Linked DNA regions of Homo sapiens. The protein of the gene in region 3 purifies or fractionates together with the protein of the main gene of each other region. This does not show direct contact. Each region holds a gene or a part of one and is shown on either strand. Other genes may lie near its edges. The genes, in order: XPO5, SKIC3, SLC60A2, ARCN1, FASTKD1, XPOT and PSMB2.

Evidence for each region.
Region 1: the proteins of SLC60A2 (region 3) and XPO5 purify together in Homo sapiens (affinity purification with mass spectrometry; one large-scale study listed by BioGRID and IntAct). This does not show direct contact.
Region 2: the proteins of SLC60A2 (region 3) and SKIC3 purify together in Homo sapiens (affinity purification with mass spectrometry; one large-scale study listed by BioGRID and IntAct). This does not show direct contact.
Region 4: the proteins of SLC60A2 (region 3) and ARCN1 purify together in Homo sapiens (affinity purification with mass spectrometry; one large-scale study listed by BioGRID and IntAct). This does not show direct contact.
Region 5: the proteins of SLC60A2 (region 3) and FASTKD1 purify together in Homo sapiens (affinity purification with mass spectrometry; one large-scale study listed by BioGRID and IntAct). This does not show direct contact.
Region 6: the proteins of SLC60A2 (region 3) and XPOT purify together in Homo sapiens (affinity purification with mass spectrometry; one large-scale study listed by BioGRID and IntAct). This does not show direct contact.
Region 7: the proteins of SLC60A2 (region 3) and PSMB2 purify together in Homo sapiens (affinity purification with mass spectrometry; one large-scale study listed by BioGRID and IntAct). This does not show direct contact.

The regions. Positions count from the first base shown.
Region 1 is NC_000006.12:43,544,504-43,548,706, forward strand, and holds part of XPO5 (exportin-5), read right to left. Parts: intron 3,958-4,203; coding exon 3,758-3,957; intron 3,205-3,757; coding exon 3,105-3,204; intron 2,951-3,104; exon of another isoform or gene 2,813-2,950; intron 2,250-2,812; coding exon 2,068-2,249; intron 1-2,067. UniProt on the Homo sapiens protein: Mediates the nuclear export of proteins bearing a double-stranded RNA binding domain (dsRBD) and double-stranded RNAs (cargos). XPO5 in the nucleus binds cooperatively to the RNA and to the GTPase Ran in its active GTP-bound form.
Region 2 is NC_000005.10:95,548,342-95,552,544, reverse strand, and holds part of SKIC3 (superkiller complex protein 3), read left to right. Parts: intron 1-1,894; 5' UTR 1,895-1,964; intron 1,965-3,829; 5' UTR 3,830-3,985; intron 3,986-4,203. UniProt on the Homo sapiens protein: Component of the SKI complex, a multiprotein complex that assists the RNA-degrading exosome during the mRNA decay and quality-control pathways.
Region 3 is NC_000006.12:111,275,862-111,280,731, reverse strand, and holds the end of SLC60A2 (sodium-dependent glucose transporter 1), read right to left. Parts: 3' UTR 727-4,870; downstream 1-726. UniProt on the Homo sapiens protein: May function as a sodium-dependent glucose transporter. Potential channels for urea in the inner medulla of kidney.
Region 4 is NC_000011.10:118,582,092-118,586,294, forward strand, and holds part of ARCN1 (coatomer subunit delta), read left to right. Parts: intron 1-1,087; coding exon 1,088-1,267; intron 1,268-1,717; coding exon 1,718-1,923; intron 1,924-2,388; coding exon 2,389-2,553; intron 2,554-4,203. UniProt on the Homo sapiens protein: Component of the coatomer, a cytosolic protein complex that binds to dilysine motifs and reversibly associates with Golgi non-clathrin-coated vesicles, which further mediate biosynthetic protein transport from the ER, via the Golgi up to the trans Golgi network.
Region 5 is NC_000002.12:169,532,058-169,536,260, forward strand, and holds part of FASTKD1 (FAST kinase domain-containing protein 1, mitochondrial), read right to left. Parts: intron 1-4,203. UniProt on the Homo sapiens protein: Involved in the down-regulation of mitochondrial MT-ND3 mRNA levels which leads to decreased respiratory complex I abundance and activity.
Region 6 is NC_000012.12:64,410,486-64,414,688, forward strand, and holds part of XPOT (exportin-T), read left to right. Parts: intron 1-4,203. UniProt on the Homo sapiens protein: Mediates the nuclear export of aminoacylated tRNAs. In the nucleus binds to tRNA and to the GTPase Ran in its active GTP-bound form. Docking of this trimeric complex to the nuclear pore complex (NPC) is mediated through binding to nucleoporins.
Region 7 is NC_000001.11:35,631,490-35,635,692, forward strand, and holds part of PSMB2 (proteasome subunit beta type-2), read right to left. Parts: intron 49-4,203; exon of another isoform or gene 1-48. UniProt on the Homo sapiens protein: Non-catalytic component of the 20S core proteasome complex involved in the proteolytic degradation of most intracellular proteins. This complex plays numerous essential roles within the cell by associating with different regulatory particles.

The DNA.
Region 1 (4,203 bases), about 68 Mb from region 3:
CACGTCTGGGTTGGCCACATAGATTCTGGCCACAGGCCTAAAAAGGTCTAGGTGATTAGCTTCTTGCCCTATGATTTCCATCACTTTCACGTTTCTCTAGCTGCAGAAGAACCTTGTGGTTTTAAAAAACATCACTATGGGGCTGGGTGTGGTGGTTCACACTTGTAATGCTAGCACTTTGGGAGACTGAAGCAGGCTCAGCTGTCCGAGACCAGCCTGGGCAACATGGCAAAACCCCATCTCTATTAATAAAAACATCACGATAGAAATAAGCCTCTTCTTGACTAAATGTTTAACCCTCTCAGTACAAGTCCTACTTCTTTTCAGAGATCTCTTTCCTCCTTTAGAAATCAAAAGAAAATATTATTTATTTATTTATTTATTTTGAGATGGAAGTCTCACTCTGTCGCCCAGGCTGGAGTGCAGTGGCGTGATCTTAGCTCACTGCAATCTCCGCCTCCCGGGTTCAAGCGATTCTCCTGCCTCAGCCTCTCGAGTAGCTGGGATTACAGGCATGTGCCACCATGCCCAGCTAATTTTTGTATTTTTAGTAGAGACAGGGTTTCATCATGTTGGCCAGGCTGGTCTGAAACTCCTGACCTCAAGTGATTGACCCACCTTGGCCTCCCAAAGTGCTGGGATTACAGGTGTGAGCCACCACACCCCGCCAAAATATTGTCTATTTCCACAGACATGTCCACAATGACAACTTTATCAGACACTCCAGCCCTCCAATTTGTCAACATTAACTTAAAATCTTTGGTTCTCAGGCTTCAGGTCTTGGGTGTCTATTCCCAGGAGAGTTTCACTGCGACATGAATAATTTGGTTTGCCCCGTTGAGACTGCTTTTACTCCTTGGAGAAGGGGCCAAAAAGTACTGAAACAGAGCTCTAACAATGTAATTTAAACATCCTGTGAGAGGCCAGGTGTGGTGGCTCACTCCTGGAGTCCCAGCACTTTGGGAGGCCGAGGTGGACTGATCACTTGCGGCCAGGAGTTCGAGACCAGCCTGGCTAACATGGCGAAGCCCTGTCTCTACTAAAAATACAAAAATTAGCCAGGAGTGGTGGTGCACACCTGTAGTCCCAGCTACTTGGGTGGCTGAGGCAGAAGAATCGCTTAAGCCTGGGAGGCGGAGGTTGCAGTGAGCCAAGATTGCACCACTGCACTCCCAGCCTGGGTGACAAAGTGAGACTCTGTCTCAAAAAAACAAACAAACAAAAAAAAAACCAATCCTGTGAGATACAAAAAGCACTCTTTGGCCAATAACTGAATTATATAAAAAAACCTATCTTTTCATTTAGAGACCATCCCTGAGTCATCAAATATCTATATCTAGTAACTGATAAGCCTATACTGGCCTACTTCCACTTGAATATATTAACTCATGTGATCTAAAACAGTGATTCTGAATGTTTAATGTGTATATAAACCACTGGGCATCTAGTTAAAATGCAGATTCTGATTTAGTATGTCTGGGGTGGGGCCTTGATTCTGCCTTTGAAATAAGCTCTCAGGTGATGCTAATGCTACTGGTCTTAGGACTCAGCTTTGAGAACCAAGGATCTAGCAAACTCAGATGAAAAATTTATAATTCCTTTGTTTAGCATGTTCAGCCAGCGGTTGTTTGGTTCATCTGAGCTCAGACTCAGTATTGATAAATTCAGATTAGCTCATATGAATACCACCTAGACAAGCATCATTATAGAAGGCAACTGCCCTGCTCCCAATGAGCAATTCCTTTACTAAAAAATTTAGACCAAATAAAACTTACAAGTAAAAATAGGGATGAAGTATAAAGAAATGGAAGAACAACAAAGAGGAGGCTCAAAATGGGAAAAGCCCTTTTGGGATTATCCCCTTGGGTTCACATGGAAATTAAGATTTATGCAAGTGAGAGCTGATGTTATTTTTTTTAAAACTGAGACACCCTCTAGAAAGAAATAAGACTTAAATCAATCCCTCATTAATACCACTAAGATATGAAGACATGTAAACAGACTAAACTTTTGAAATTTTTAAGGTAAAGTAGAAAACAACAGAGAAAAGCCATTATTCTGACTCACCTTATAAGCGCAAGCAAATTGTCAAGAAGTTTCAGAATCTGCTCTGTGCAGGGGTTACGGAAGATTGGATTTCCACTGGATGTATAACCCACCACAAATCCCCCAGCTTTGGCCTCTTCTAGGTCAGTGGGCCAGCAAGTTCGTTTCACCACACCCAGAATGCTGTATACACAAAAGCTCATCTATAGAAAAATAAGAATGACAGATAAATATTAAAAGGAAAAAAAAAAAAAGACCAAATACTGTTAGATATATTCAAGGTTCTGGCAAAAGTGACACAGAGGCCAGAGAGAATGAAATAATCCTCTGCTCCCCGGCAATCCCCCATCCCTTCCTTTAAGGTGAAGTCCAAGAGGGATCCTCTCACTGCCATTTTCAGGGCCAGTGGTAGGCTCTGGAAACTTCCCTTGCAGTAAGCTGTCTTTCTAGGAGCTGCAGTGACCCACCCACAGGACCCTGATGAGAAGGTGGCTTAGATACGATCCAAAACAAAGTGTTTAAAATGCCATCACTTCATCTTCTTTGAGTTGACCCTTATTGGGCCTTGACAGCTAGTGTCCTAATCCCCCCTCACGGTACTCTGAATCAACCTACTACTTGCCAGGTTAATTAATGGGACTTGTGCCATAATGGAGCCAGGAACAATGCTTATTTAAATAGCAAAGCACTGAAAAATCTCAGGTTTGCAAGTTAAGCCATCACTTAAGACTTTACATGCCAGAGAGCAATGGCAGGGAGGACTCACCCTGCTGACCAAGTTCTGACCTACTTCCTCATTACACCTTCAGTCTTCAGAGCTATTTAGAGATCCTTAAAGCCAAAATAATGACTTCATAGAAAAGACCATCTGCTCTGCTGTGGGAACTAACTCAAGAATTCAAGACTAAAGAAGAAAAGAAAGGAGAAGCTTAGGGAAGTGGAGACTCCCACGTTTCTCACCAGTATAGAAAAAACAAATCTATGAGAAACTTGACAAAAGACAACACCCTACTCCTACCCATGGCCAATGCCACTTCCCATTCCCAGGAAAGTCTTACTCGTGCACGGTTTAAGCCACACGGATCCTCCAGGCCTGGGTCACAGCTCTTCTGATCTGTACCCACATACGCAATGAAAGCATCAACATCTGACAGCACTCTGAAGGTTGGAGGGGGAAAAACAAGTTACATCATGACTTTAAACAAGGACAGTTTCTTCCACAGGAGTTAACAGGCTATCATTATTTGGCCCTTAAGAGCAGTTTTTATAGTGAGAGGAGTATAATCATACTAATTGTCAGTTGTCATTTGAAGGTTTAAATTTCCCTTCCCACTCCCAAATATTATTAGTAACAATTTAAGAATTAAACAAGAATATAATCTTCAAAATATAAAGAAAATAATTTCTCTACTGTGTGAGCACAGATAAGTGTCTGTGTGGTTGTATGGCCCTTCCTAGCTGTTCTCATTTTTCTAAATGTGCTGGTGCTGCAATGCAGACACCACAGGAGTCTCACTCTGTGCCCTCCCCACCCACAATCTAATTGAACCAGAGATTAAATTACAAAAGACTGCTTTTAGAGAACTTCAGATATCATGGATAATGCCATCACACTTCAATATCCTTAACCCCTACCCCACCCTGGGCCTAGCTCTTAAACCAAAATGGGTGCTTGAGTATAGTAAGAGTCAGGGCAAGGGATCTCCTTTACCTGTGCATGTCTTGAGAAAGCCAGATGCTGGCCACTGGTGCCATCAGCTCCTCTAGGAACACCTTCTGACGCTCGTAGTTCTTAAATTGGTTGCTAATGAGAACCAGGGCTTCCATGAGGGCACACTTCTCCATTTGTGTCAGGAGTAGCTCATTGGAGAGGAGTTGCTTCACATGGTTATAAAGCATGTCAAAATTGGGCTACAGATCAAAAAGAAAAAAAGCCAGAGGTGGTAAAGGTCTGATTTTCAAGGAGAGGTGGCTTACTCAAGGAAGAAAGAAGAAAACCAAAGCAGTCCCAGGAAAGTCAGGCCTATAAGGTTATTATTTGGTAATTCTGTTATATGTCTTTATTTTGCCTAAATAAGCAAGGCAATTTAGGCGGAAGATAGCTCTTGTCTTGAGTATTTGGATAACTGCACTTTCCCATACTACAACTGTGAAAAG
Region 2 (4,203 bases), on a different chromosome or scaffold from region 3:
ACTTCCCTCAGTCACTCATTTTTTTGTTAACACTGGTAAGCCTTGGAAGCTGGAAGATCATTAGCTATTTATTGAATATGTATTATCCAGTAAGTGTTGGGTATATAAGAAGCTCTGAAAATATAAGACTTACGTCTAAGAATTTATTGAATTGGGAGACATAATTGAATTATGTCTATATAGGATAATAAAAATAATATTTGTTAAGTTGCAGTTGAGTAGCTCAGTTTGGAGGTTTGGAGGAGGGAGTGATCCCTGTTGTAGGCTGTACTCTAGTATTCATGTAGTGTAGTAACTAATATGAAGAGGGTACTCATGTTTGATGATAGCTGTCTTGAGGAATACAGATGCTTCTTATGGTGGGTTACACCATGATAAACCCATTTTAACTTGAAAATATTGTACGTCAAAATGCATTTAATATGCTGATAAGCCCATCGTAAAGTCAAAAAATTGTAAGTTCAACCATTTGTAAGTCAGGGGCCGTTTGTATAGGTAAGAAGTTTACTTCTTGAGAGAGCAAGGAAGAAGGAGGTTGCAGGACGGTTGGGGATTTGAATGTGTAGGGAAAATTTTTAACACTGAGTTATCACACTAGTTGTTTTAGGAATGGCAAGTAGCAAAGTTGATTGAGAGAATAATAGTAGATAGGACATTATTAGTATAGATTATGTCCAAGTACTCCATCTATGTGTGTATCAGGTAAGTGATGTAATTCTTACTTTACCAGTGAGGAAATGGGCTTTGAGTAATGAAGTCATGTACCCAAGGCCTAATGGCTTTGATCCTAGATCCATTTGATTTCCTAAGCTCACTCTCAACTAGGGTAAGCCTTGGTGGGTGGATATGACAGAGTAAAGGGGCTGACAGGATCTAGGGTACTTTGTAAGAACAGAGTTGAAGTGACTGAGTGATAAAACTAGATTGGGTGAGGAGGGCAGCCAAGTGTTAGCAGGGCTAAAGAAGCCAGTGAAATAGTCAAGTTTGTACTTTTTTTTCTTTTTTAACTATTATCTTACTTTCCTAAACATTGTTTGGATTACCATACTTTCTTTTCTTACCAGTAAGACTTTCTACTGTTGGAGTGACACTTCTATTTCGGTAGATCACTAATGAGTGTTTTGGTTAGGGAAACTTTTCATTCCTTGTTCATCCCTACCTGCCTCACCTAAACATTGTTTACTTCCTAGTTCTGAAGTAGCATGTTTTTTTTCACTTTATTCAGTTTTTCAAAACCACTTCCATTCTCTGCAGGGACCATTCTAGATTGTTTTTTGTTTGACAGAAGCCACTTCAGGGATGCTATCAAAATATCCTTAGAATTTGTAGATGTGTAGTTGTGTTACTATTTTTAATGACTATTTAAATGCATTGTTAACATTAAAAAAATTTCTCTGTTTTCATTAGATTACAAACTAATATAATTGTATTATATTATACTCCTTATGTTCCTTAGAGAAAAGTTCTATTCTAATATAATTAGGCTGCAAATTGGGTGTAAATAAGTACCCTTAGTTGTCTGTAGATGTCCTTGATTCAAAGCAAAAATGGCACAGAAATAGTAGATATTCTTCTTTGGCTCTATTTTTTTATATTGACATCAGTGTATTTTGGGTTTCTGAAATGGTTTCTCAAAATCCTTCTGATCTCTTGTAGAAGTTTCCTTTTATCATCTGAGGCCCAGGAATATAGTTTAGACCAATTCAGAAGTTTGGAGATTAAGAATAGTGTCTCTCTGGGAAAGAATAAAAATACTAAAAATTATACATAATTATTTCTCATGTTTTAAATTATGAATTATGAAAATTGATGCGTTAAAAAGTTTAGAAGGTTTTGGGTTGTGGGTGTCATCCTTTTTATATGATTGTCTCATACTTGTTTTTGTTTAATTTAGATGGAAAATGGGTAAGGAACAATCAAATTCAATTCGGGAAGAATATAGAGGTGGTAATAATTGGTAAAAGGTAAGTGTCTACAATGCTAAATAATAAATTGGAATCTATTTTTACTTAATGATTGTTTTTACTCATTCCTTTCAGAAGAAAGATTTAATGGCATAGTTTTTTTTTTTTTTTTAATGTCAGACTATGGGTCATTACAAAATACCTTTTGTTATTAGATTTAAAGATATCGTTTTTTTTCCTTTCTGTAATTAGCTTCCGTTGTCATTATCATTACTATTTATTATTATTGTTGTTTTAGCTTTGTGGAATCTTTGTATGAGCATATTGGAATATTATTTAAGGTTTCATAGCCTCAACTGGGGACATATATATCATACCTATATATGTTGTCCTTGAGGAATATCATTGCCTTTATGGCATGACTGTCACTTTCTAACTCTTTTTAAGTGCAGTTGTTGCCACTTTTTATTCTTGATTTATGTTGGATAAAAATATTTTGGGTTGGTAGTAGAAAAACTTGAGTGAAAACGTACAAAATGAATACTCTTATTTAAAAAAAGACAGTTGAGATTGAGGAGAATAGTGGGAGGAGAGGTATAAGGCGGAAAGAATTAATAGGGAGTTATATTGTGGAAGAATATTAAAGACATCTCCCTCTCTTGCAAGAGAGCTAGATGTTTCTTTGACGTGTTAGAAATCCTTACAATGAAGGGAAATATCCAAAATAGAGGAGTATGGGGTTACGTGGAATCATTTTGGGTAGTAGGTTTTTACCCTCGGAAGGAAAATGGGTTTAAGTGGTACCTAGTAGATGGTTGGATCTCAATAAGGGTTTGTTTAGAAAATTGGTGAATGGACGTTTCCCTTTCCCCTCAAAAATAAAAATAAAAATTAAAAAAAAAGGAAGTAGTAGTTTTTAGGGTTGAAAAGGGGCAGATTATTTTGTCTTTTTACAAATTAAACTTCTGAAACTTACGTACATATATGTGTGTATGCATGAGTGAGAGAGGACCTCAGTGCTAGCGTATTGTGTTAAATGTTGCATCAAATGAAGAAGGAATTGGAAGAGAATAGAGGGTTCCATTGTAGCATGAAGAATTGTAATTACATATGGAGACATACAGATACTGAAGGACATTTAATATTAGAATTGATTACCAAGAGAAAAATGGTGTTTGTTTCTATATAGTGGTCTTTAAAAACAACCTACTTAAAAATTACTAATGGCTTCCTATTTGCTGCTGTATTTAACTTCACACTTGTCTGTTTGACTTTCAGGATCTGTAATCTGAGGCTCTATTTACCTACCCAACCTAATTTTCTTCTGTTTAATAAGTCCCTTCTGATCCATTCAGCCTGGCTTTCTCACTGTTTCCTATACTTGCCACAACTCATTCCCACTTCTGTCACTTTGCTAATGCATTTGCCTCTGAGTAGAGCAATTTTCCTTCTTCACTCCATTTTTAAGTCTTGTCATCTTCTATTAATAGAAGCCATTAATAACATCACACCACACACCTTTCCTTCTCTAAATTCCTATTGCACTTCCACTCATTACCCTTAGTTTAGCATTTGATTATTGAATGACTTATATGTCTTAAGTCTTTCTCTTGATTTAGATTATATTCTTTATATATTTTTTATATCGTGCACAGCAAATAGCTTGGGGGCTGCATGTAGTTTAGTAGTGGTTGGTCCTGCCTTGTTTGTATACATACCCTCATGAATGTTGGGTGATAGAAGAGATGGTGAACTTCCTCCTTATGTAATGGTTGTGGTCTTTTGTTTGTTTTTAATTTGAGACTGTTTTTGTTCCTTTTCAATTTGGACATCTTTTGATTTTTTTACTTGAGTGTCTCTTTTTGTCTCTTTTTATTGATCTAGATCAGTTGTCATCATCCTTGATGTTATTTTCTTCTTTTTAGTCTGCAGGGTTTTTTTTAACCAAAGGAAACTGGTTTGAGAAAATTGTGAAATCAGCATTGAAATTTGTTACCTACTCCAATCAAGATTTGCAAACTACAAAAAAATCATTCTGAAGCTTTCACCTATAAATATATACCAAGATAATTTCAGATAAGGTAGTAGTTTCTAAAGCAAGAACATATGAAATATGGTGCTTTAAATTATATAATTATTGTAACTAGGCAAAAAAGTTACTTATCTGCCTATTTAGGGAATCTGGTTCTAGCTGTAGATAAATTGATTTTATGGTATCTTAATTTTTCTATTATTTTGAATCCTAACATTTTTTAAGTCAAAAAGATTAAAAAATATGTATCTAACTTCTCAAACTTCT
Region 3 (4,870 bases):
AATAGAACTACCATATGATACAGCAATTCCACTGCTGGGTGTATATCCAAAGGAAAGGAGATTGGTGTATCAGAGAGACAGCTGCACTCCCATGTTTATTGCAGCAATTCACAATGACCACATATGGAATCAACCTAAGTGTTCTTCAACGGATGAATGGATAAAGAAAGTGTGGTATATACACTATGAAATATTATTCAGCCATAATAAAATGAAATCCTATCATCTGCAGCAACACGGATGAAACTGAAGGACACTATGTTAAGGGAGTTATTTCACTTAACAGAAAGACAAATATTCCATGTTCTCACTTAGATGTGGGAGCTAAAAAATTAATCTCATGGAGGTAGTGAGTAGAATAATAATTACCAGAGGCTGGGAAGGGTAGGGGACAGAGCAGAGGGCAGCAGGTTGGTTAGCAAATACAAAAATACAGTTAGACAGAAGGAATAAGTTCTAGTGTTTGATAGCACAGTAGAGTGACTACAGTTAACACTAGTTTATTGTATATTTCAAAATAGCTACAGGAGAAGATGTGAAATGTTCCCAACACAAAGAAATGATAAACATTTGAGGTGATGGATATCCCAACTACCCTGATTTGCTCATTACACACTGTATGCATGTATCGAATTATCACAGGGAACCCATAATTATGCATAGCTATTATGTATCAATTCAAAAATCAGTGAAACAACTGAAACATGAATCTTAAACCAACATCACTATTGTTATCAATATTTTATTCAAACAAGTTTTTATATGGTACAAAGCTATGTAAACAGTGAGTAGTCTATTTTTTTTGTTTGAGATGGAGTCTCACTCATGCAGTGGTGTGATCATGGCTCACTGCAGTGTTGAACTCCTCGGCTCAAGGTATCCTCCCGCCTTGGCCTCCCAAAGCACTGAGATTACAGGTGTGAGCCACCACGCCCAGCCTAGGTGAGTAGTCTTAAATTCAGATGTAATAAACCTGCAAGATCATTCCTACTCTGTTAAGCCCCCCAAATCAAAATTGACTGGTGAAAACCTGCCTAGAAGGGCAACCTCCAAAAGATCTGAGCTTTTGTTTTAGGAAGGACTTCAAATAACAGCAATATTTCCTGCACTGGACCAAGCAGCAGTGGAGTGAATAGAAAACATGAGATCTCTTCCTCTCCAGTTTTCCTTTAAGAAAGTGCACAGGCTAGGCGCGGTGGCTCATGCCTGTAATCTCAGCACTTTGGGAGGCCGAGGTGGGCGGATCACGAGGTCAAGAGATCAAGACCATCCTGGCTAACGTGGTGAAACCCCGTCTCTACTAGAAATACAAAAAATTAGCTGGGCACAGTGGTGGGCGCCTGTAGTCCCAGCTACTCAGGAGAATGGCGTGAACCCGGGAGGTGAAGTTTGCAGTGAGCTGAGATAGCGCCACTGCACTCCAGCCTGGGCAATAGAGCGAGACTCTGTCTCAAAAAAAAAAAAAAGAAAGAAAGAAAGTGCACAGAATTTCAAGGATCTACAAAAGTGGCATAACTTAATCAATCTGTAAGTAAGCCTAAGAAAAAACCACGGTCATTAGTAGAGGATCCAGTTTTGTGCACTGATCAAAGCAGTGGTTCTCAATCTTGGCTGCACATTACAATTACGGGGGATTGGGGAGGAGGAGTTACTTTTTTAAATATCCATACTCAGGCTCCACTCCAGACCAAATTGGTATTTAAGTTAAAATGCTGGGCATCAGTCATTTTTAAACACTGCCAGGTGATTCTAACAGCAGCCAGGTTTGAAAACCACTGGAGCAAAGGTTAATCACTTGGGCAGAGGACAAGAACACATTTTGCAATCACGTTTTTCCCTTGGGTCCTCTTTCCTTCTGGAGCTTATGAATTCTGGAGGGTGTAGAAGCAAAATGTCACTTTCCCTTGCTTCAGTAAGACTAAGAACTTCCTATATCATTCTATTAGTCTGTTTTCATGCTGTTGATAAAGACAGACCTGAGATTAGGTAATTTACAAAAGAGGTTTATTGGACTTACAGTTCCACATGGCTGGGGAGGCTTCACAATCATGGCGGAAGGCAAGGAGCAGCAAATCACATCTTATATAGATGGCAGCAGGCAAAATGAGGGCTTGTGCAGGAAAACTCCCTCTTATAATAACCAAAAGATCTCGTGAGACTTCCTCACTATCACAAGAACAGCACGGGAAAGACTTGCCCCCATGATTTAGTTACCTCCCACCAGGTCCCTCCAACAACACATGGGAATTCAAGATGAGATTTGGGTGGGGACACAGCCAAACTATATCAATCACCATCAGAAAAGAAAGACGTTGCACCCTGAGACAAAACAAAAATGATAGGGTCATCTAACTGTTGATGATCTAAAAAACAATAAAACCTTGAATGTTTCCCATAAACCTGGACTCCCTAAGAAATTTTATCCTTGGTTTTTCCTGTACTACATCTGAAGATTTGCCATAACCTTTATGAATACAATAATTACATGAGGCAGTTACTGTTTTTCACCGTGAACAGTCTAATGCAAACTCAGAAACCTTGGCAGTTTTTAATTTTTTCCTTCAAATACTTACGTTTTTTATTAGGCAAGCCAGTCATTCTCTTGCTCTCTTTGCAGGTAAACTTTTCCTTTTCTAAATGCTTCTGTCTCTGAGTATTTCTTCAACAAGGGTAAAGATTCATAGAGTGCTTGGACACAGAACTGGATACTCTGCTCCTGGGGGCAGAGTTCACTGCAAGTGATAAGGGAAAGAGCTGAGAAATGAGAACCTGCTCTGTCAGCCCAAGGGTCTTTGGAGCTGTAATCCAAGATCTAGTTTGACCATAAATATATTCTCTTGGCTGGACTGAATAAATCTCAAAAGTTGGTGTCAGATTCCTTTGTTGTAGGCTTCCTAAGCCTTCTTGCCTATATTCACCTCAACTACACTGTGCCGAGTAATTTCTACAAAATTCTAAATCAAAAATTACCCCAAAGACATAGACAAGTACTAGAAATGAACAAACAAAAACACACACCAAGGAACCAAGAGTTTAGCTACTTTCCTTTTCTAAAACTGGGTAAAACCTATTACAATAAGAGTTACTGGCTCTTCCGCTGATAGAAATTTTGTCATGGCAAATTTTACTTAAAATAGAAAAACATAAGCTTGGTGAAGGCAAGGATCTCATCTGCCTTCTCCTATTATATTCCCAGGGCCCTGGTTACTGAACATGGTAAATGCTCAGTAAATATCTGTTAGATAACTGAAATGCATGAATTTGGAAAACTTTCTGGTCCGCACAGATGAGAACTGTAATAATATCTCTTGCAAACTGGGACTCCTCTTAGAGCTCACTCAAGTAGAAATCTTACCCTCTTAGGAGAAAGCTTTCTTTCTTGGTAAAAATCAAACAATCCACAAACCTTGTCTAACACGCTCTTCCAAAAAAGTCTGCAATTTGGTGTGATTTTGTTTTTCCAGTTCTGATGCAGATGAACCAGGCCATCCATCCCAGGACCTGCCAATTTTCATCCCATTCAGGTATCGATTACCAATATTTATGAAGCCTAGCACTTCTCTGGTACAGAGCAGACAGTGGACATTCCCTTTTGATGATAACAGCTCCTGCATGCAGAGTGGTGGGAGTAGGAGGGTAGAAGTAGCCACTTTCTGGATGGGAGCAATGTCATCAACCCAAAGGGAACCCCTTCATAGGCTAACCAGCAACTCCTGAGGCAAGGCCCAATAAGGGCAATGGCATCTACTCAAGTCAAACAGGTTTCCTCCGGAATCTGGACCAGAGATACACAGAGGAACTCCTGAGGCAAGGCCCAATAAGGGCAATGGCATCTATTCAAGTCAAACAGGTTTCCTCTGGAATCTGGACCAGAGATATATAGAAGATGGGCCAGGAATGCAGAAAACGAGTGGTCCCAAGGAGGGGCAGAACTGCTGTGAGAGAGGCAGAGAGCAGCCCATTTATCGTTCTCAGACCACACACCTTCTGGTTCCAAGGTGGTTCAGAGGGATCTCTGTAAACGAATGAGCACAAAACACAGAACCATTCATTTGGCAGAAAACTGAGATCAAAGCTGTACCTGCTACTGCAAGGACAAAAAAGAAAGTTCATTAATACTTAGTCTACAGAGCCTCACATGCAGTAAGCCCTCAAGCACTTGTGCAATGACTGAACAAAAATTGCAAGCAGAGATAACAAAACTTTGAGGTAGTTGCCCAACATAACTTTTCTTTGAGTTCACTTATTCAGTACATGGGTGCTACTGATATGATCATAATGCGCCTAAAGTCTGAGATAATACCTTAAAAGTATGTGTTTATTCTCTTCCTAAAGCTACTCTCTTCTGGAAAAACTTGATTAAGAAAAAAATCTAAGACAAAAAACACAAACACAACAAAATATTAAAAATAGAATTACCATAAGATCCAGCAATTCCACTTATGGGTATATATCTCAAAAGAACTGAAAACAAGATCTCAAAGACACAGTTGTACACCCACATTCACAGCAGCGTATTAACAACAGCCAAAATGTAGAAGCAACACAAATGTCCACTGACAGATGAATAAACAAAATATAGTATGTATATACAATGGTGTATCATAGACTTAAAAAGGAAAGAAATTCTAACACATGCTACAACAAGGATGATCCTTGAAGACATTATGTTAAGGGAAAGAAGCTAGTAATGAAAGGACAAAAACTGTATGATCCCACTTATATGAAGTACTCTGAGCAGTCAAATTCATAGACAAAGTAGAATGGTGGTTGACAAGGGCTGGGATGGGGGCGTAGAATGGCAGTTACTGTTTAACAGCACAGAGTTTCAGTTTTGCAAGGTAAAAAACGTTCTGTGGATGAGTGGAAG
Region 4 (4,203 bases), on a different chromosome or scaffold from region 3:
AAGTGCACAGGCATTATACTTTAGTGTGGGCAACACAGCAAGACCCTGATTCTTTTTTTTTTAAAGACGGAGTCTCGCTCTTGCCCTGGCTGGAGTGCAGTGGTGCAATGGTGCAATCTCGGCTCACTGCAACCTCCACCTCCCAGGTTCAAGCAATTTTCTGGCCTCAGCCTCCCGAGTAGTTGAGATTACAGATGTGCATCGCCATGCCTGGCTAATTTTTGTACGGGGTTTCACCATGTTGGCCAGGCTGGTCTCGAACTCCTGACCTCAGGTGATCTGCCTATCTTGGCGTCCCGAAGTGCTGGGATTACAGGCATGAGCCGCTGCACCCGGCTGTAAGAATCAGGGTCTTGGGCGTGGTGGCTCACGCTTGTAATCCCAGCACTTTGGGAGGCTGAGGCGGGTGGATCACCTGAGGTCAGAAGTTTGAGACCAGCCTGACCAACGTGGTGAAACCTCGTCTCTACTCAAAATACAAAAAAATTAGCTGGGCATGGTGGCGGGCACCCATAATCCTACTACTCAGGAGGCTGAGGCATGAGAATTGCGTGAACCCAGGAGGTGGGGGTTGCAGTGAGCCGAGATCGTGCCACTGCACTCCAGACCGGGTGACAGAGTTAGACTTTGTCTTAAAAAAAAAAAAAAAAAAAAAATCAGGGAGTTAGGCTGGGCGCAGTGGCTCACGCCTGTAATCCCAGCAGTTTGGGAGACTGAGGCAAGCGGATCACCTGAGGTCAGGAGTTCAACACCAGCCTGGCCAACATGGTGAAACCCCGTCTCTACTAAAAATACAAAAATTAGCTGGGCGTGGTGGTACACACCTGTAGTCCCAGCTACTCCGGAAGCTGAGGCAGGAGAATCACTTAAACCCAGGAGATGGAGGTTGCAGTGAGCCGAGATGGCACCACTGCACTCCAGCGTGGGCAGCAGAGCGAGACTCTGTCCCAAAAAATAAAATAAAGACTAGAAGTAGCTAATAAAGGGATTTAGGTTATTGAAATTTATGTACTCTAAAGGATAAGACTTGGAAATATAGCTGCTGATAAATTCTAAATCTTTCTTTTTTATTGGTGTCCACGCTTAGATCCCTGAATATTGCCGAGCCTTAGAAGAGAATGAAATATCTGAGCACTGTTTTGATTTGATTTTTGCTTTTGATGAAATTGTCGCACTGGGATACCGGGAGAATGTTAACTTGGCACAGATCAGAACCTTCACAGAAATGGATTCTCATGAGGAGAAGGTGTTCAGAGCCGTCAGAGAGGTAAATAGGATCTTCTCTGGGACTACCTGTTTGTATGTCTTTCTCTTAGGCTTCACTAATCTCATTTTCCTATTTTTACTTACTAATGTAGACTGTATTCAAAACTATGTCCAGGCTAGGCACAGTGGCTCATGTCTGTAATCTCAGCACTTTGGGAGGCGGAAGTGGGAGTATCACTTGAGTCCAGGAGTTCAAGACCAGACTGGACAGCGTAGTGAGACCCTGTCTCTATAAAAAGTAAAAAAAAAATTAGCCAGGCATGGTAGCACGTGCATGTGGGTCCCAGCTACTTGGGAGGCTGAGATGGGAGGATCACTTGAGCCCAGGAAGTTGAGGCTGCAGTGAGCTGTGATTGTGCCACTTGCACTCCAGCCTGGGTCACAGAGTGAGACCCTGTCTCAACAAAAACCCAAAAAAAAAAGCTACATTAATGTATGTCTTTTTCTGTAGACTCAAGAACGTGAAGCTAAGGCTGAGATGCGTCGTAAAGCAAAGGAATTACAACAGGCCCGAAGAGATGCAGAGAGACAGGGCAAAAAAGCACCAGGATTTGGCGGATTTGGCAGCTCTGCAGTATCTGGAGGCAGCACAGCTGCCATGATCACAGAGACCATCATTGAAACTGATAAACCAAAAGTGGCACCTGCACCAGCCAGGTATAATCCAGTGTACTTTAGAATACCAGGTGAAGGGTGTATATGTGTCTATCTTTGAAGTCATAATCTGATTTCTTGGAAAGCTGTAAATAAAGAAGGACTTGATGAAGTAAGATATGATGTTACATTTGGCCACATACAATATGAGGATAAAGAAGAAATCTGAATGTGGTGTTTTTCCTTTTGTATAAAAGAGAGTTATAAATTATGTCATGACCTCAGTTTCCTATGAGAGTTGCCTTATTGTGGGGAGGAAAGGGCTATTTAATGCTTTATGGAATGTAGATTTTTAATCTTGATGTTCATTGATTGATTTTAGGGGAAATCTGTGAATTACCCAAAATTATATACAAAATTTTGTGCACAGGTGTATTTCTCTGGACGGGAGATACAAAATTTTCATCAGATCATGTGTGCTTGTAAAAATAAACCTTTGGGTAATGAATTTCAAATTCTTCCACTTAGGCCTTCAGGCCCCAGCAAGGCTTTAAAACTTGGAGCCAAAGGAAAGGAAGTAGATAACTTTGTGGACAAATTAAAATCTGAAGGTGAAACCATCATGTCCTCTAGTATGGGCAAGCGTACTTCTGAAGCAACCAAAATGCATGCTCCACCCATTAATATGGAAAGGTAAGTAGGAACTTTGAGTAAGAATTCAAGCTTTGAATACAGTCCACATAATTTTTTAAAAATCTTATTTCAGTGTGCTATAAATTCTTTCTCTGTCTTTTAATCGTTCCTGATTTAAAAGATTTATTCAGAGCAGATTCTACATATTAACATAAGATCGTTTTTGGTTTTGTTTTGTTTTATTTACTTATTTTTTTTTGAGATGGAGTCTCACTCTGTCACCCAGGCTGGAGTGCAGTGGTGTGATCTCGGCTCGCTGCAAGCTCTCCCTCCCAGGTTCACGCCATTCTCCTGCCTCAGCCTCCCGAGTAGCTGGGACCACAGGCGCCCACCCCTACGCCCGGCTAATTTTTTTGTATTTTTAGTAGAGATGGGGTTTCGCCGTGTTAGCCAGAATGGTCTCGATCTCCTGACCTTGTGATCCGCCTGACTCAGCCTCCCGAAGTGCTGGGATTACAGGCGTGAGCCACCACGCCCGGCTGTTGTTTTGTTTTATTTTTTTGAGACAGGGTCTTACTATGTTGTCTAGGCTGGCCTCCAACTCCTGAGCTCAGTTAATCTTCCTGCCTCAGCCTCCCAAGTAACTGGGATACAGGCATGCGTTGCTGCACCTGACCTTTTCCTTTTTCCTTAAACCATGATTGGGGGCCCTCAGCCACCTATTTTCTATGAAGTTTAGAACTTTCCTTTTACAGCTAAATTAAAGTTACTTGTAGTCACACCTGGTATATAGCGTATCTCTTAGAATGCACTTGAATTAGGGGACTAGAGCTATGGTGACCCCACACTGTATTTTGGCATGACTTTTTCTAATTAAAGTCTAAGTAGAACCAATCTTTAATCCAAAACTTGTAGATATCTTTAATAGCAAATTAATATATTTTGCATTTTTATTTTATTTATTTATTTTTTTGAGATGGGGTTTCACTCTGTCACCCAGGCTGGAGTACAGTGGTGCAATCTCAGCTTGTTGCAACCTCTGCCTCCCAGGTTCAAGTGATTCTCCCACCTCAGCCTCCCAAGTAGCTGGGACTACAGGCATGCACCACCACGCTGGGCTAATTTCTGTATTTTGGTAGAGATGGGGTTTTGCCTTGTTGCCCAGGCTGGTCTCGAACTCCTGGACTCAAGCAATCTGCCTGCCTCGGCCTCACAAAGTACTGGGATTACAGGCGTCAGCCACCATGCCCAGCCATCTTTTGCAGTTTAAATATTTGAAGCCAGTATGGAATATTTTGATTCATCTCTTATCTCAGGGCTGTGGTACTGGTTGGTGACATTTTTAAGTGGTAGTTATCAAGTTCACATATTCGTGACTCAGATTTCTCGTCTTGAAGCCAGACCTTCTACTGTTGCTGATGGTTTTGAGGTCAAGTGAAAGATAATACCAGGAGGATACCTTTATCAGGTGTGCATAAAAGAGGAGTATTTACTCTTTTTCTTTCTTCTTTCCTTTCTTTCTTCCTTTCTTTCTTTCTTGACAGAGTCTTGCTCTGTCTCCCAGACTGGAGTGCAATGGCACGATCTTGCAACCTCCACCTCCCGGGGTCAAGCAATTCTCCTGCCTCAGCCTCCCAAGTGGCTGGGATTACAGGTGCACGCCATCACACCCGGCTAATTTTCTTATTTTTAGTAGAGACAGAGTTTTGC
Region 5 (4,203 bases), on a different chromosome or scaffold from region 3:
GACAGGGGAACTTTCTGTTGAATGAATCAGCTGACAACATACGAACCCACTGATGAGTCTTAATGTATAAAAGACAACCAGGCCAGGCACAGTGGCTCACACCTGTAATCCCAGCATTTTGGGAGGCCGAGGCAGGCAGATTGCTTGAGCTCAGGAGTTCCAGACCAGCCTGGGCAACATGGCAAAACCCAATCTCTACAAAAAACTTAAAAAATAAGCCAGGTGTAGTGGTAGCTACTCCGGCTGAGGAGGCTGAGGTGGGCGGATCCCTTGAACCTAGGAGGTCAAGGCTGCAGTAAGCCATGCTTGTGCCACTGCACCTCAGCCTAGGCAGCAGAGCCAGACAAAAAAAAAAAAAAGGAAAGAAAGAAAAAGAAAAAGACAACCAGCCTTGTGTGCCTCCTGAGAGGATGCAGAAAGAAGTACAAGCCACTTATGAAGTTTTTGGCCAAAAAGAAAAACCTAAAAAAAAAACCTAAAATCTAATCAAATCTCTAGATATCACTAATGGTTTACAGCAAACCCAGGTTTACAGTAAAAACATTAAAAACTATCAGATGACATTTTAAATGTTATCACAGGGCTGCAATTAGAAAAGTTCGAAATGTGGAAAAAAAAAACTTATTCTCAAATTTTAAGTTAAAAAAAGAAGTAGGAAAGGAAAAGTTGAACCAAAAACTGCAAACCAACCAAGTGGAATGTTAAGATCCCAATTTGGACAAACTATAAAATAAACATAAAAGACACTTAAAACAGGAAAAGCAAAGGTATAGGGGTGCAGTGCATGAGACGTATGAGGAATAGGTTCCACTGCCTTCAATCCTTCACCATTGAGTTCATTATAGTAGGCCAAATCTAACATTTCGATAAAATGTTAAATTTTATCTAAAATTTCCCATATCTCCCTACTTATGTTACATTTCCCATAATTCCCATAAATGTTCAATTTTATCTAAAATTTCCCATATCTCTCTACTTATGTGACATTTCCCATAATTCTACTACCTTCAATCCTTGATCATTGAGTTCATTATAGTATGCCAAATCTAACATTTCAATAAAATGTTAAATTTTATCTAAAATTTCCCATCTGTCTACTTACGTTAAATTTCCCATATTGCTGAACATTTCTTAAAAGATATTAAGAAATTATTATTAATGGTTATAGGATGATAAAGATGATATTGTTGTTATGTTTTTTAAGTCATTCTTATCTTTTAAATATACTTCCTGAAATGATGTCTGTGATTTGAAAAGAATCAGATGGAACTCTGGTGAAAAACTCAGGCACTGAACCATCTTTAAATTAATTATGAAAGATGAAATATATAGAATTCATTAAGAGAATGAATTCTAGAGCCAGAATGCCAAGCTCAAATCCTGGCTCTGTCATTTGCCAGGTATATAACCTTGGGCAATCAATAATGTTTGTGGACTTTAGTCTCCTCATCTGCAAATAATTTACATACTTCATAGGGATATAAGTTTACTATATGCATACACACACACAAGTACTTACGAAGTACTTAAAATGGTGTCTAACACATAATAAGCAATATATAAAAATAAACCTATTATTGTTGTTATATGAAATTGCAGCATTGTTTGACAGATGGACATACCAGCAAAAAAATCTTACAGATTGATTAAATCATAGCATACTCAATGAAATATGCAGTAACTAAAAAAGATGTTGTATAAGCATATCTGTTGGCATAGAAAAATATTCACAACATATAAAGTTATAAACTGCTATGATCTAAATGTGTCCCCCAAAATTCATCTGTTGAAACATAATCATCAATGTGTTAATAATAATAGTGGGACCTTAGGCCAGGCGTGGTAGCTCACACCTGTTATCCTAGCACTTTAGGAGGCAGAGGCAGGAGGACTGCTTGAGCTCAGGAGTTTAAGACCAGCCTGTGCAACATGGTGAAACCCCATCTCTACAAAAAACACAAAAATTAGCCTGGTGTGGTGGTGTGTGCCTGTAGACCCAGCTACTCAGGAGGCTGAGGTGGGAGAATCACTTGAGCTCTGGAGGCAGAGGTTGCAATGAACCGTGATCATGCCACTGCACTCCTGCACTGCACTCCAACCTGGGTGACAGAACAAGACCCTTTCTCAAAAAAAAAAAAAAAAAAAAAAAAAAAAAAGAGGCAGAACCTTTAGGAGACGATTAAGTCATGAGGGCAGAGCCCTCATTAATAAGATTAGTGACCCTATAAAAGAGCATCCTCTGTTGCCTTCCTGTCCCTTCTGCCATGGGAGGACACAGCATTCAAAGTACCATCTTGGAAGCAGAGGCTAGGTCCTTAGTAGATACCAAACCTGTTGGTATCTCGAGCTTGGACTTCCTAGCCTCCAGAACTGTGAAAAATAAATTTCTGTTGTTTTTTTTTTTTCTTTTTTTTTTTTTTTTGATACAGAGTCTCACTGTCGCTCAGGTTGGAGTGCAGTGGCACGATCCCGGCTCACTGCAACCTCCGTCTCCCGGGTTCAAGCGATTCTCCTGCCTCAGCCTCAGGAGTAGCTGGGATTACAGGCGTGCGCCACCACGCCCAGCTAATTTTGTATATTTAGTAGAGATGGGGTTTCACCATGTTAGCCAGGCTGATCTCGAACTCCCAACCTCAGGTAATCCGCCCGCCTCTGTCTCCCAAAGTGCTGGGATTACAGGCGTGTGCCACTGCGCCCGGCCAAATTTCTGTTGTTTATAAATTAACCAGTCTCAGGTATTTTGTTGTAGCAGCAGAAAAGGACTAAAACACAAACACTACAGAAGAAAACCTTTTTGTCTTTTTTTTTTTTAAGTTAGGAAAACAGACACCAAAAGCAAACAGCGGCTATATCATGGGTAATTTTTCTTTTTTGTTATCTTCCTTTTCTAGTTTTTCTATGTTAAGCATGTCTCATGTAATTTTTTTTTAAGAGATGGGGTTATATTCATATTGTTCTGAAGAAAAAAAGAAAAATATTAAAAAGAGATGGCTTCTCACTATATTGCCCAGGCTGGTATCAAACTTCTGGGCTCAAGTGATCCTCCTACCTCTGTCTCTCAAAGTAGCTAGGATTACAGGCTTGCACTACCATGCCCAGCTTCAATGTTTGTTTTTTGTTTTGTTTTGTTTTGTTTTGTTTTAGAGACAGAGTCTTGCTCTGTCACTGAGGCTAGAGTGCAGTAGCGTGACTGTAACTCACTGTAGACTCAACTCCTGGGTTCAAGAGATTCTCCCACCTCAGCCTCCTAATGGGACTACAGGGGCATGCCACCATGCCTGATAATTATTTATTTATTTAGAGACAGGGTCTTACTATATTGCCCAGGCTGGTCTCAAACTCCTGAGCAATGGGACTAGAGGGGCATACCACCATGCCTGCTATTTATTTATTTATTTATTTATTTATTATTTGTTTATTTATTTATTTAGAGACAGGGTCTAACTACATTGCCCAGGCTGGTCTCAAACTCCTGAGCTCAAGCTATCCTTCCACCTCAGCCTCCCAAAGTGCTGAGACTATGTGTATGAGCATGAGCCACTGTGCCCAGCCAATTTATGGATTTTTGTCACTCATACCCAACTCAATCCTGATTAACATAAAATCAAAGGAAAGTTGTGTTTTATAGCACAAGATGAGAGCATTAATGATTATCTAGTTCACCTTCCTGCCCAGTGCAAAAATCACACACATCTATCATCTGAATACTCAGCCTCTGCCTCAACATTACTTCTTCAGAAAGCAGTCAATAATTCTCATTATACCAAGTTAAAGTCTGCTTCCTTTCATTTTTACCATTTTGTTCATCTTTGAGATAGAGATATCTAGTTCTTCTACTTAACAATCCTTCAAACATTTTAAAACATTATGGTCCCCATAAGACTTCTATTTTTCAGACTAAACATCCTTTTTTTTTTTTTCAAGTAAGATTTATTGGGCTGGGCACAGTGGCTCACACCTGTAATCCCAACACTTTGGGAGGCTAAGCTGAGGCAGGAGGATCGCTTGAGCCCAGGAGTTTGAGACCAGCAACATAGTGAGACCCTGTCTCTATAAAAAAATTAAAATAAAAATAAATTCATTGAGCACTTACTATGTTCCAAGGATAGTGTTAAATGCTTTACATGCAATATCTCAGTTAATCCTATCAAGTAGGCATTATTATCCCCATTTCACTGATGAAGAAGTTAACAAGGTTCAGAA
Region 6 (4,203 bases), on a different chromosome or scaffold from region 3:
TTTATTTTAATTTTTTTCTAGAGATAGGGTTTCACCATCTTGCCCAGGCTGGTCTCGAACTCCTGAGCTCAAGCGATCTGCCCACCTCAGTCTCCTAAAATGCTAGGATTATAGGCATGAGTCACCCTGCCCGGCCACATTAGTGATATTTAACTTTCTTGTTATTTGGTCTAGGCAGACATAAATAAGCAGTTATGATAGGTTATGTCTTAAGTAAAATGGTTACATGACAAGAATCCATTATAAAGTGCTGGGATAGTTGGATAAATGTAAACAATTAAATATAATGTAGCCTACAACTATAATCATGACTATAGCTGAATGATAGAAAAATATAAAGAATGAGCCTATAATTAATTTTTTTTAAAGACGTGGGCATTTGGAACTATAGGGTAAGTGGAAAGGAAAGAGGCATTTTCTTTTTACTTTTCATAGCAAAGAATACTTTTTATAAATGAGCTAAATGAGGTTAACAATCTCACTAAAAATTATAGCAGTTTTTATTCTTATTTTAAGAAAAAAATCTTTTAAAGCAGTAAAAAACAATCCCAACTAGTTTCTAATACAGTACCATGTGCATGTCTCTGCTACTAAATAAGTAACGAGCCCTTCAGATACAGGAAAATAATAGGAATTGAGATTTAAGTATCTGGCTAATTACAAGATACCTATCAAACAAGTTAGGACATCAAAAGACATTTAAAATCCATGTCTTCTGTGTGTAAACAAATCTTTCTTGTCATAGGGTTTTATGCTACCTACCTTCAAACATAGTTGAAGTATCATAGATCTTTACCTTTAGTCTAGCTTGGTATTGCATGCTTGTAATTAAAAGCCTTTGACTGTATGTTTAGTTATTAAATGGCCTTTACTGTTATTTTTATGTGCCTCTTGAAATCTTTCATTTCTTAAGTTCCAGCATCCAATTTTTGGATGAAAGAGGCATTTTCTTTGCCTCTTAAGTTCCAGCATCCAATTTTTTTAAATGTGCCATGATTTCTTTTTCAGAAAATTAAAACCAATACATTATTAGTGGTTTTAATACAGAAGCTCTGCTTTTTGTCAGTAAAAATGGGTTCTGTCACATACGTGTTTTAAGCATCCAGGTCCAGGCATAATTCAGTATCCATTTAGCCAATCTGAATAACAATTTATTAGGATGAAAGGGAAGAAATCTTAAAGTGAATTCTGAAAGCCCTTTTGTTGCAGTTCGGGAGTAGTGGAAACTTAATTCAGTTTGGTGGTGAGAAGAATGACTGTCTGCCAACCCCAATTGCTCAGTTGTCTATCTGTAATTCTCTGTTTTTTACATGGGCAATAAAAGTTGAACTGACTCTTGTCACATAGAGTCAGTCAACCATTAGAAAAAAGGTATGGGGTAGAACTAGGTGGTGAAAGCTAGGACTTGTTTGTCAGTGTTGTAGAATTTTGTTTTTTTAATTGTTAGTAATGCATAGATTCAGAATACAAAGGCTTTGTTTAAAAACTAAAAACTTCCACGTTATCTCTCCTCTCCTTCCTCTCACCCCTGCCCCGCCCCCCGCCCTTTTTTTTTTGAGACAGAGTCTCACTCTGTTGCCCAGCCTGGAGTGGAATGGCACCATCTTGGCTCACAGCAACCTCCAACTCCCGGGTTCAAGAGATTCTCCTGCCTCAGCTGGGATTAGAGTAGCTAGGATTAGAAGCACACACCACCACGCCTAGCTAATTTCTGTATGTTTGGTGGAGACGGGGTTTCACCATGTTGGTCAGGCTGGTCTCAAACTCTTGACCTTGTGATCTCCCTGCCTCAGCCTCCCAAAGTGCTGGGATTACAGGCATGACTCACCGCGCCCAGCCTCCTCCTTTTTAAAAAATAAAACACTCGTCTTTGGCTTAAAACCTGTTATTATTTAAAGAAAATGGTATGTCATGACATTTCTAGCAGCTGAAACCACCTCTCCCCTCTTTTGTAAGTGAAATATTAGGTGGTAATGCAACATACATGATTAACTTCTACCTTGTCCTCTGGCCTCTGAGATATTCCTAAAGAATACCCTATGTTTCATGGACTGCTGTTAGAAACAACTAAGCTAGTACTATCTTTTATAGCTGCCTGTGTTCTTATAGTCTTAACTTCTAAAGAGAGACATTATTTACTCTGGGCTGTTTTCCAATACCAACAACCAACTCTCTTGATTTCTGTGGACACCAACTGGGTGTCCTACAAATCAATTCAATTCTGACACTACCAGGATTAGCATCACATCCCACAAGTTATGGGCTCGGTCTTACAAACCGCCCCCACTTAAGACACTAATTGAGTCCAGAACCTCTCATATTTCTGATGATGGAGTAGCCTACAGAACTTAGAAAAACAGTTGACTTTCTTGTGCTGATGAAGGATCCACCTCATGAGCAGCCACATGGAAGCGATGCATAGGGCAAAGTATAGGGGAAGGGGCACAGAGCTCTTGTGCCCTCTCTAGGAACACCACCCTCTCTAGGAACACCACCCTCTCAGCATCTCGATGTGTTTGCCAACCTGGAAGTTCAAGAGTTTTTATAGAGCTGAATCTTGAGTCCCTTCTCCCCTTCCCAGAGGTTGGTGGTTAGGGTAAAAGTTTCAACACTCTAATCAGTTGATCTTTCTGGTAACCAGCTGTATCCTGAGGCTGTCTAGTGTTCCCACACCAAGTTACCTCATTAACATAAACTCTGTTGACCCCGAAGTCTCTAGTGATCCTTCCACCTTAGCCTCCCAAGTAGTTGGGACTGTAGGTGCACGTCACCACTTCTGGCTAATTTTTAAATTTTTTGTAGAGACAGGGTCCCACTATGTTGCCCAGGCTAGCCTTGAACTGCTGGCCTCAAGTGATCTTCCAGCCTCAAGTGATCTTCCCACCTTGACCCCCCAGAGTGTTGGGATTATAGGTGTGAACTGCTGTGCCTGGCCCAAAGGACTCATTATAAATAACAAAAGACGGTCCTGTCGCTCAGGAAATTTTCCAAGAGTTTTAAGGGCTCTGAGCCAGCAACTGGCTGCAAAGCCCAAATGTATTTTTTCGTTATACCATATATTTAATATTATATTTGGTGATCTTCACCTAATCATCTTCATTTACCTGGTCTTCTGTCAGTGGGAGCAGCCATTGAGACCATGTATGAAAACCCATTCCCTCATTCATACAGTTACATAGTATAGGAAACTATCACCTAAATATAAATACAGTGGCTTTGATCTGTAACCCAAAGAAAAAAATAACTTTACATCTCGATGACCCAGTGTGTGTGTATATATTTATAGGTACATATGCACATAAATAACTAAAACAAGTTACAGAAAGTAATATTCTTGCTAGGGTATAGTACAGAATATCTAATATTCTCTATTTCATTTTTAAAAATTATTGTTCAGGACCCATAAACTGATTTCATCACTAGTGGGAGACACCACCGTTTTAAAAATATTTACCAATTGAAATTAGGTTTCTCTAAGGCTAATGTTTCTTTTACCTCATGTCAGCTTTTGTTTCATACATAATTGCTGTCAAATCATCTAGCAGTGCTTCCAGTTGATGTGCAATTTTCTTGTCTATTGGAGATACTTGTCACAAGATGTTCACTACTATTTGTCCATTGCCATGTGTGAAACCTGCATCTGGTGCAACATGCTGATGGGAAGAGTGCCTGAAGTAACTCCCATTTTCCCAACAGTTTGGTAGAGAGCGTATGGACTTGGTGCTGCATCCATTCTAGAGTACTCTTGCTCCTTGTTGGCACTGTTACTTGTGATTACAAGGCCCTGAATTCATAAACTTAGAGATAAAAAACTTCCTCGAGCTTTGACCTTTTCAGTTACTTAATATTTTTCAAAATTCATATCATGCACTTGTACTCCAATTTTAATCTCTTTAGGGAACTTACATGATATAATTAAAGACTTGAAATACTCTCCTGTGTAACAGTAGATCAGATAAGGTACACAGTATGTTTTATCTTTTATAATCACCGCTTTAATAGCAGATGTGCTATTAAATAGGAAAAGTGCCCTTCACGTGCCATTTTATAATTGCATATTATAAAATGATCACACCCTTAACTCATCCTCTGCAATTTCTCAGTAGTATGGCACTTGACAAAGCACTTGCTCTCATTCTTCATAATAACCCCATGAAGGCTGCGGGGCATTTTTGTGTTGTTGCTGCTGTAAGAAAACAGGTT
Region 7 (4,203 bases), on a different chromosome or scaffold from region 3:
TCTAGTCCCTTTCCTCATGCAACAGCTATGAAATAGCTGGTTAGTACTGACAGCAATTCTTGGCCACAAACAGAACCAGTTCTATAGTGGAATGAAACTTCTAGCAGCCTTGCTTAAACTATTCATTCATCAACACACTGTGGTTTCTGCCGTAGAAGGAAAGGAACACGAATACACAAGAAGTGAAAAAAAAAGAAAGGCGTCTTAGATGCCAATCTTTTAAAAGTTTATTTTAAAAAGGATATTGGGGGCCAGTCACAGTGGCTCATGCCTGTAATCCTAGAGCTTTGGGAAGCCAAGGTGGGAAGATCGCTTGAGCCCAGGAGTTTGAGACTAGCCTGGGCAACATAGTGAGACCCCCATCTCTAAAAAAAATTTTTTTTTAAATTTCTAGGCATGGTGGTACATGCCTGTAATCCCAGCTACTTAGGAGGCTGAGTGGAGAGGATCAATTGACCCCAGAAGTTCAAGTGAGTTATGACTGTGCCACTGCACTACAGCATGGGTGACAGAGCAAGACCCTGTCTCTAAAAAAACGAAAACAGGAACAAAAAGGATATTGGGAAAAGAGAGGCTAGAAGTTAGGACTACCTCAGAGTCATAGTTTATTAAAAAAATATTTTAAATGTTACTTTATTAAGAAGTATAATATGACTTTCAAAAGTATAAGCCACAGAAAAAGAACATTTCCATCATTCTGCAGTATTTTTAAAAATAGAGTATCTCAAGTGTTAAAACTTCAAAAATAAAAGTTGTCATACCAACAAAGGTACAACCCAGAGGAATAGCATCAGGTGTGCATGTAATAACGCATTCACTTTGGAGCTTAATCCCCCTGTAGAATGGGACCAGTGCCAAAAGGCACAAGAATGATCCATAACTCAGTGGGCCCACACAGAAAATGTCAGTATGGAAAGACACACAGCAGTGTGGTTAAGTAATTGCTTACAACATTTCAAATACCACTGTCAAATTAGGAGAGATTCAGATTCAAATCCTAACAAATATTTATTGAGCAGCAACTATGTTTCAGGGTCTATGCTGAGTGTTTTCACATGTATTATTGTACTTTATCCTCACAAGTCTATTAGTGCATATTAAATCATAATGAAAGCAATCCTTGGCCAGGTGCAGTGGCTCATGCCTGTAATCACAGCACTTTGGGAAGCGGAGGCAGGCAGATCACTCGAGCCCAGGAGTTTAAGACCATTCTGGGCAACATGATGAAACCCCGTCTCTACTAAAAATATAAAAATTAGCCAGGGGTGGTGGTGCACACCTGTTTTCCCAGGTAGTTGGGAGGCTGAGGTGGAAGGATCACCTGAGCCTGGGAATTCGAGGCTGCAATGAGCCATGATTGTGCCACTGCACTCCAGCCCAGGCGACAGGAGTGAGACCCTGTCTCAACAACAACAACAAAAATAATAATAATAATTTAAAAAAAGAGGCCAGGCACAGTGGCTCACACCTGTAATCCCAGAACACTTTGGGAGGCCCAGGTGGGTGGATCACCTGGGGACAGGAGTTTAAGACCAGCCTGGCCACCATAGCGAAACTCTGTCTCTACTTAAAATACAAAAAATTAGCCAGGCATGGCGGTGCATGCCTATAATCCCAACTACTCAGGAGGCTGAGGCACGAGAATCACTTGCACCCAGGAGCTGGAAGTTGCAGTGGGCTGAGACTGCACCACTGCACTCCAATCTGAGCAACAGAACGAGACCCTGACTCAAAAAAGAAAAAAAAAAAAAAAGAAGGAACCTAGACAAGTGGGAATACTATTCAATTCTTTACTTAACCCCCTAAACACCACTGAAGATCTGACCATTATCCTAAAGGCAGAAAAGTCATGCCTGATTATCTGCATATAGATTTTCTCTTTCTTTCCCTTATTTTAGCTCAGTTCTTTAACTTATATAAGAATTACTATATAGAGTTACATACACAAAACTGTACTTGGCAGGTAATTTAAGGGTCTTTAAGGGCAATTTTAACCAAACACAGTTTTTGTCTGTGCACTGACTTTAGACCCTAAAACCCAGTAACAAACAACTCTTGCTACTCTTGTTCACTCTTCTCCCTCTCTCAGGACAGCCAGTGAAGTCATACAGTACCTACTGGACTTCAGAAGCATTACTGACATACTTCATTTGTTATGCAGGCAAAAAGTGGAACCACTGGAAAAAAAAGCAGAATTCTTGAAATATTCTAAACCTGCATAAACCTAAGTACCATGTACTTTATGTTCCTGAATGTCAGGACTAAGCCTTATTCATCTTTGAATTCTCTTAAGTATTAAGCAGAATGCTTACCATAGAAGAGGCCCTCAAAAGTATTTATGGAATTGAATACAAATGCTAAATCCACTGCCCAAACTATGTGAATAGATCTTTGGTCATTTTACACATGCAAGTATATTCAAATTAACTTCCTTCATAGCTCCATATTATACCAGTGCAGTGTATAACGTTGTTATTGAACTGTGAGGTAAGTGGAAATAAGGTTTTCTCTGCCAGACCACCACTACAAACATTCCTGGATCAGAGGCCTAGTGGCTAGTATCGTTTGCTAGGGAGGTTTTCCCAGTGGATAAGAGTTCATTAGCCCCAGAGAGAGCTCACAAAATACTTCACAAAAGTCTTAATTATCTCTCTAGAAGGAAACCTACCAGAGAGTAAGGCAGAACCCTTTTATGGCACAGTAAATACTTATAGTTAGTTACACAATGCTTTAGGTTTACAAAATATTTTCATATGTATTATTCATTAGTATTATAATTCATTTCAGAGATAAGGAAAATAAAGTCCCAGAGAAGATAAATGACTTATCACATAAAAAATAGTAAAGCCAAGGTTTACTTAGGTTTTTTGACGCTGAGATTCAGATTTTTTTGTTTCTTTGTTTTGAGACAGGGTCTCACTCTGTCGCACAGGCTGGAGTGCAGTGGCACTATCATGGCTCACTGAGACCTTGAACTCCTGGGCTCAAGTGATCTTCCCACTTCAGCTTCCTGAGTAGCTGGGACTATGGGTGTGCACCACTGCACCCAGGTAAATATTTTTATTTTTTATAGAGCCAGGGTCTTGCTTTGTTGCCTAGGCTGGTTTCAAACTCCTGACCTCAAGTGATCCTCCCATCTCAGCCTCTCAAAAGTGCTGGGATTACAGGTGCTAGCCACTGTGCCTGGCCAGGTTCAGATACTTTTAAACTCAAACCACATCCTCTGAGATATCTAACACTTAAAAAGTCTGATACTACCATCCCTACCTCCAAGATGGTGTTGGGTTTTTTTTTTTTTGGTTGGTTTAAAAAAATTTTTTTTAGAGACAGAGTCTTGCTGCCTTCCAGAGTACAGTGGCACAATCATAACTCACTGCAGCCTCGACCTCCTGGGCTCAAACGATCTTCCTGCCTCAGCCTCCTGAGTAGCTAGGGCTATAGGTGCATGCCACCACACTCAGCTAATTTTTAAAAACTTTTTTGTAGAAGGCCGGGCGTGGTGGCTCACACCTGTAATCCCAGAACTTTGGGAGGCCGAGGTGGGCAGATCATCTGAGGTCATGAGTTTGAGACCAGCCTGACCAACATGGAGAAACCCTGTCTCTACTAAAAATACAAAATTAGCCAGGCGTGGTGGCACATGCCTGTAATCCCAGCTACTTGGGAGGCTGAGGCAGGAGGATTGCTTGAACCTGGAAGGCAGAGGTTGCGGTGAGCCGAGATTGTGCCACTGCACTCCAGCCTGGACAACAAGAGTGAAACTCCATCTCAAAAAAAAAAAAAATTTTTTTTTTTTTTGTAGAGATGAGGTGTCACTACATTGCTCAGGCTAGTCTTAAACTCCTGGTCTCAAGTGATCCTCCCACCTTGTCCTCCCCAATTGCTGGGATTACAGGCATGAGCCATCATACCAGGCCGATGGTGTTAGTTTTATCTATCAGCTATCAGTGTTACAACAGTTCTCTGCTCTAGGATTTTTGTAGAAAATCTTTTATGAAGGATTAGAATCTTTAGGGTCTAGACAACTTCTTAAACACAGAAAACTCTAATGAAAATATGGGCTGGGCGTGGTGGCTCACGCCTGTAATCCCAGCACTTTGGGAGGCCGAGGTGGGCAGATCACAAGGTCAAGAGATGGAGACCATCCTGGTCAACGTGGTGAAACCCTGTCTCTACTAAAAATACAAAAATTAGCTGGACGTG